Linked DNA regions of Homo sapiens. The protein of the gene in region 1 purifies or fractionates together with the protein of each later gene. This does not show direct contact. Each region holds a gene or a part of one and is shown in the gene's direction. Other genes may lie near its edges. The genes, in order: SPAG7 and ACAT2.

What was found.
Region 2: the proteins of SPAG7 (region 1) and ACAT2 fractionate together in Homo sapiens (co-fractionation; one large-scale study listed by BioGRID). This does not show direct contact.

The regions. Positions count from the first base shown.
Region 1 is NC_000017.11:4,958,517-4,961,881, reverse strand, and holds the end of SPAG7 (sperm-associated antigen 7), read left to right. Parts: intron 1-1,028; coding exon 1,029-1,096; intron 1,097-1,334; coding exon 1,335-1,423; intron 1,424-1,563; coding exon 1,564-1,648; intron 1,649-1,770; coding exon 1,771-1,860; intron 1,861-1,965; coding exon 1,966-2,122; intron 2,123-2,238; coding exon 2,239-2,348; 3' UTR 2,349-2,656; downstream 2,657-3,365.
Region 2 is NC_000006.12:159,764,975-159,768,793, forward strand, and holds part of ACAT2 (acetyl-CoA acetyltransferase, cytosolic), read left to right. Parts: intron 1-2,030; coding exon 2,031-2,212; intron 2,213-3,536; coding exon 3,537-3,654; intron 3,655-3,819. UniProt on the Homo sapiens protein: Involved in the biosynthetic pathway of cholesterol.

The DNA.
Region 1 (3,365 bases):
GTAAGATATTTTGAGAGAGAGAGAGAGCATAGCCACAAACTTTTATTTCAGTACATTGTTATAATTGTTCTATTGTATTATTGTTATTCTTAATCTCTTTTTTTTTTTTTTTTTTTTGAGATGGAGTCTTGCTGTGTCGCCCAGGCTGGAGTGCAGTGGCGCCATCTCTGCTCACTGCAAGCTCCGCCTCCCAGGTTCACGCCATTCTCCTGCCTCAGCCTCCCGAGTAGTGGGGACTACAGGCGCCCACCACCACACCCAGCTAATTTTTTGTATATTTTTTTTTTTTTAGTAGAGACAGGGTTTCACCGTGTTAGTCAGGATGGTCTCGATCTTCTGACCTCATGATCCATCCACCTTGGCCTCCCAAAGTGCTGGGATTACAGGTGTGAGCCACTGCACCCGGCCATCTCTTTTTTTTTTTTGAGACGGAGTTCACTCTTGTTGCCCAGGCTGGAGTGCAATGGCGCGATCTCAGCTCACTGCAATCTCTGCCTCCCAGGTTCAAGCGATTCTCCTGCCTCAGCCTCCCCAGTAGCTGGAATTATAGGCGCCCACCACCACACCCGGCTAATTTTTGTATTTTTAGTAGAGATGGGGTTTCACCATGTTGACCAGGCTGGTCTCGAACTCCTGACCCCAGGAGATCTGTCTGCCTCGGCCTCCCAAAGTGCTGGGATATAGGCGTGAGCCACCATGCCTGGTCTATTATTCTTAATCTCTTACTGTGCCTAATTTATAAATTAAACTTTATCATAGGCATGTATGTATAGAAAAAGACATAGTATGTATAGGGGTCAGTACTATCCACAATTTCAGGCATCCACTGAGGGTCTTGGAATGAACCCCTGTGGATAAGGGGGACTATTAGATAGAATAAACATCAATAAATGCTTGATGAATAAACGCTAATCCTACCTTCCCAGCCTGACACCTCCCAGTGGACACCACACTTCACTTGAAGCCTTAGAAACCTTTCCCACCCATGCTTCCAGCCCTGGCTTCATGTTGCCATTTCTCACCCCCAGAACAGGCCGCCCGCCTGAAGAAACTACAAGAGCAAGAGAAACAACAGAAAGTGGAGTTTCGTAAAAGGGTGAGAACAACTGGAGTGATCAAAGGCAGACTCAGGAAGGACTTCCAATAAGTTAAAATTGGAAGGTTGAGGACTCAGTTTTGCTGAAAATGTCTTGAGAGAGGTGACGCATGGAAGCCAGTGGCTTGGAGGCTGGGGAGGGTGCTGGGGAGGCGTAGAAGGGCCCAGGCTCAGCTAGGGAGAGGGGTACTTGGGTGGAGCCATTGTCTCATATCTGCTTCCTTTCCCCTCTCCCAAGATGGAGAAGGAGGTGTCAGATTTCATTCAAGACAGTGGGCAGATCAAGAAAAAGTTTCAGCCAATGAACAAGATCGAGAGGAGCATACTGTGAGTGTCCCTGGGCTGGGGGAGGAAGGAAATGGGTGGCTAGCGGGGCATGAAAGGGCCAGCGGGGGGCTCCTCCAGAGGAGGGCACTAGGCCCGCTCCTGGCTCAAGATGCTCTTTCCCCTCTGCCATCCCATCCCAGACATGATGTGGTGGAAGTGGCTGGCCTGACATCCTTCTCCTTTGGGGAAGATGATGACTGTCGCTATGTCATGATCTTCAAAAAGGTAAAGGGCCTGAATTCCTCATTCTCTCCTCTCCCCTTTGTAGCCTTATCCCCCCTCCCCGACCAAGGAATGAAATGAAACATTTGTATGGACTCTGACCCCATCATTCTGCTCTTCTTCAGGAGTTTGCACCCTCAGATGAAGAGCTAGACTCTTACCGTCGTGGAGAGGAATGGGACCCCCAGAAGGCTGAGGAGAAGCGGAAGCTGAAGGTGAGCTATGCTTTGCAGCCCTTGGGGTCCAGAAGCCCACCACCTGGGAGGGGTGGGGGTTTGGGCTGGGGCCCTGAGCACCAGTGCCCCCACTTTCACCCCTAGGAGCTGGCCCAGAGGCAAGAGGAGGAGGCAGCCCAGCAGGGGCCTGTGGTGGTGAGCCCTGCCAGCGACTACAAGGACAAGTACAGCCACCTCATCGGCAAGGGAGCAGCCAAAGACGCAGCCCACATGCTACAGGCCAATAAGACCTACGGCTGTGGTGAGGCCACAGTGCGGCTGGGGGTGGCTGGGAGAGGAGCATAGGATGCGGCAGGAGGGCAGTGGAGGCTGAGGTACGGATTTCTAGGCCCGCCCTACCCTCCTCTCTGCCCCTAGTGCCCGTGGCCAATAAGAGGGACACACGCTCCATTGAAGAGGCTATGAATGAGATCAGAGCCAAGAAGCGTCTGCGGCAGAGTGGGGAAGAGTTGCCGCCAACCTCCTAGGCGCCCCGCCCAGCTCCCTTTGACCCCTGGGGCAGGGCAGGGGGCAGGGAGAGACAAGGCTGCTGCTATTAGAGCCCATCCTGGAGCCCCACCTCTGAACCACCTCCTACCAGCTGTCCCTCAGGCTGGGGGAAAACAGGTGTTTGATTTGTCACCGTTGGAGCTTGGATATGTGCGTGGCATGTGTGTGTGTGTGTGAGAGTGTGAATGCACAGGTGGGTATTTAATCTGTATTATTCCCCGTTCTTGGAATTTTCTTCCCCATGGGGCTGGGGTACTTTACATTCAATAAATACTGTTTAACCCAATGTCCTGGTTTGTTTATACACAGAAAGGTGGGTCCTGGAACCACTGGTAGAGAAGAAGGGGAATAATTTTCAGTTGAACAGCATAAAATTGCTGTTTGTGTAGGTTAAAGATGGCCAGTTGGAACTATCAGAGGTTTTTTGTTTGTTTGTTTGTTTTGAGACAGAGTCTTTCTCTGTTGCCCAGACTGGAGTGCAGTGGTGTGATCTCGGCTCACTGCAACCTCTGCCTCCAGGGTTCAAGCGATTCTCCTGCCTTAGCCTCCTGAGTAGCTGGGACTACAGGCATGTGTCACCACACCCGGGTAATTTTTTGTACATTTAGTAGAGATGGGGTTTCACCATATTGGCCAGGCTGGTCTCTAACTCCTAACCTCAGGTGATCCGCCCGCCTCAGCCTCCCAAAGTGCTGGGATTGCAAGAGTGAGCCACTGTGCCCGGCCCAGAGGGTTTTGTAAGATGCTGTATTTTAAGAGTGCAATCGGGCTGGGCATAGTGGCTCACACCTGTAATCCCAGCATTTTAGGAGGCCAAGGCTGGAGGATCACTTGAGGTCAGGAGGTCAAGATCAGCCTGGGCAACATAGTGAGACTTTCTCTCTACAAAATTAAAAAATTGGTTGAGCGCAGTGGCTCACACCTGCGATCCCAGCACTTTGGGAGGCCAAGGCAGGAGAATCGCTTGACTCCAGGAGTTTGAGATCAGTCTAGGC
Region 2 (3,819 bases), on another chromosome or scaffold:
TTTATTGAGCACCTACTTTGTGCCAGGCACTATTTTAGCAGCTGGAGATAAGCAATGTTCATATCAGATAGAAATTCTCATTCTCATGAAGCTCGTAGTATGCTAAATGCTAGCATTATTAATTGTGTTAGCACCTCATTTCTTTCTTTTTCTTTTTTTGAGATGGAGTCCCACTCTGTTGCCCAGGCTGGAGTGCAGTGACGCAATCTTGGCTCACTGCAACCTCTGCCTCCCGGGTTCCAGTGATTCTTCTGCCTCAGCCTCCCAAGTGACTGGGATTACAGGTGCCTGCCACTGTGCCCAGCTAATTTTTGTATTTTTAGTAGAGATGGGGTTTCAACATGTTGGCCAGGCTGGTCTCGAACTTCTGACCTCAAGTTATCCACCCGCCTCGGCCTCCCAAAGTGCTGGGATTACAGGCATGAGCCACCATGCCCAGCCCTGTACCTCATTTCTTCTTTTTCTTTTTTTTGAGATGGAGTCTCACTCTGTCGCCCAGGCTGGTGGAGTGCAGCCGTACAATCTCGGCTCACTGCAACCTCTGTCTCAGGTTCAAGCAATTCTCCTGCCTCAACCTCCTGAGTAGCTGGGATTACAGGCGTGCACCACCATGCCCAGCTAATTTTTGTATTTTTAGTAGAGAGGGGGGGTTTCACCATATTGTCCAGGCTGGTCTCAAACTCCTGACCTCAAGTAATGCGCCCCCCTCCCCCGGCCTCCCAAAGTGCTGGGATTACAGGTGTGAGCCACTGCTCACAGCCTGAGGCACCGCACTGGGCCTGTCTTTTTAATATGTATATGATCCTGCATATGTTTTCAGTCTCAAGTAACCTTACCCGTTTTTAGTTTCCAGCCTAATCCCAGATTGATAACATTGTGATGAATATAATCTCTAAGTTTTTATCAGCGACTTATTTGCTAGTTCTTCCCCACAAACTCTCCAAGGAAGGGTGGTAGGTTTGAGTATATCTGAAACTGGGAATAGAGTAACCACTTTATAAACATTTACCATTGACTCTGATAACAGACAATGGCGATTGAGAATATTTGAAACTTTTAACTCCATTCTCTTCTGTGCTACTTTAAGTAAATTATGTATTTCTTCCCAACTAAAGGAAGTCCCATAGTTGAATTATGAAAAGATATTTGTGTTTCAGTACTCAGAATGAGAAAAAAAGGTATTTGTGAATTCTGAGTTTGTATATATTTTGTTATATAACCATTTAAGCATAGTGTAATGAATACTAAGCAAGAACAGAACTGCTTATTATCAAAGGTTTTCCTTTTTAAGTAACCCTTTTTCTTCTCAAGTGTCTTAAGCCATGATCTTGGGAGCAAATGGCCCTAGTTAGAAACACTGATAATGCCTAGGTTATATCCTGTGTTTATTAGACATAGGTTTGATAATGCTTATTTAAGCACCCCCCCGCACTTTTTTTTTTTTGAGACGGAGTTTCGCCCTTGTTGCCCAGGCTGGAGTGTAATGGTGTGATCTCAGCTCACCGCAACCTCCGCTTCCCAGGTTCAAGCAATTCTCCTGCCTCAGCCTCCCTAGTAACTAGGATTACACTCATGCGCCACCACGCCTAGCTAATTTTGTATTTTTAGTACAGACAGAGTTTCTCCATGTTGGTCAGGCTGGTCTCAAACTCCCGACCTCAGGTGATCTGCCCTCCTTGGCCTCCCAAAGTGCTGGGATTACAGGCATGAGCCACCGCGCCCAACTATTTAAGCCATATCAAAAGATGAGGATGACACTTCTTTCTTAATGTATTAATGACTTATTTATGGAGGAGAAAGCTTATATCTATGAAATACCTACAGAGCAGCACAAGGCAGTATATATTCAAGGGCTAGACTGTGACAGGTGGAGAGTGTATACAGGCCTTTTTGCCTCCAGTGGGCACTTACTTGACCTGTAGGCTTTCAGAAGTGGCAGGTAACCCAACTGGCAATTTTCCACACACTTTCACTGTGACATTTTGTCTTTCTCCTTGATTGCTAAGAGTCCTCTGTGTTCCTCTTTCTAGGCTGTGGGCAGAATCCTGTTAGACAAGCCAGTGTGGGTGCAGGAATTCCCTACTCTGTTCCAGCATGGAGCTGCCAGATGATCTGTGGGTCAGGCCTAAAAGCTGTGTGCCTTGCAGTCCAGTCAATAGGGATAGGAGACTCCAGCATTGTGGTTGCAGGAGGCATGGAAAATATGAGCAAGGTAAGGCCTCTCTGATGAGGTGGCTTTCACTGACCTCACACTGAGAAACTCATGTCTATGCCAGAACAGAGTAAACAGATGCATAGCAGAGCTGGAACCAAACAGTGAACAAATAAACAGAAATGACAACCTTGATCCCTACTTGAATGTGAAGTATTCTTCAGTTTGGGTGGGAAATCCGGGTTGATAAGAAGTTTATCAACCAGTGTGATTGGAACCGAATATACTTTTTCTAAACTATTAATGAAGCATGTAATATTTTCTGAATTAAATTCATATTAGTTGCTTGATGTCCTTGGTTTTAAATTTCTTTCCCATTGTGAGTAAAAGGCAAAAAACAGATGTTGCCACTTACCTTCCTGCACATGACAAGGAGATCCTGGGGACCAGACTTTTTGACCTTTTCAGGGTATAGAACATGTAAAAGAGGACCACCAAGTGGTGCCCTTCTCCAGTAGGTTTGCCAGGCATGATTTGTTTCACCAAGTTCCATACCTCAAACTGGCATAGTGGTTGAAAGAAAAACTATACCCCCTGCTTCCTACTGATGCAGCTCAGGGGCTGAGGTGCAGATTCCCTAGATAGAAGCTGATTCAGCCCAGCCATTGCTGAGGTTCAGGAGGAGGCAGGCTAAAGGTAACAAAAATAATCGGAGTGATTTTGATGGGATGATACTGACATCTGTGTAGTACTTTACCAGGTGCTTTTGTACATGTGTTCACAACAGCCCCATATAGGGTAGATGATACCATTCCCAGTTTACAGGTAAGGAAACTGAGGACCAGAGCCAGCATTCAAATACAACTCTTCCGACTCTAAGTCCAATCAATGACTCTTTCCATTCTAATATACCTGCTGTTGAGTTGGTGAGAGTTAAGACTGGCCGCTACTCAGAAATCCCTCCCCATCATTTAGTTAGCCTGATTATTCTCACTGTAGACATTATGTCATCCATTGAAATAGGTAACACATTGTTAGCTTTACTTAAGCCCTTAGAGGATTTCTTCATTTAACAGATAATTAATTGCCTCGATGGAAAGAATAAATGGAATTCTTAAGGAAACAGGACACAGAATGGGTAGGTTTGAGGGAGAATTGAAAATGGGTAGGTAGGAGAGTAATCGTTCCCAACAATAGGAAAGATGAAGTCTGCTAATTCCAGGGGTCTTTAGACCTTGGCCTGGCTGAGGACCTAGAACTGGGGAGAAGGGCTGCAAAGGGGCCTAGATGAAGACTTAGGAAATACTAGATAGTTTTGAGTTGTATTCTGGGGAGAAGACTAATTGCAACTAAGCCTAAATCCATTTTTATTTCTGACTTCTAGGCTCCTCACTTGGCTTACTTGAGAACAGGAGTAAAGATAGGTGAGATGCCACTGACTGACAGTATACTCTGTGATGGTCTTACAGATGCATTTCACAACTGTCATATGGGTATTACAGGTAAGGCAGACATGGCTGAAACTGTATTAGCTTTAAAAAGGTTAAAAAGACCATATACTAATCTGCTTCTTAGGTGCTTTCGTCCTTATGGCCAGAGACTGTCTTAAGGATTTTTATATCTCTTCTTTGATTAACTGAAGTGAAGTAAGTATTCTCTTCTTTGTG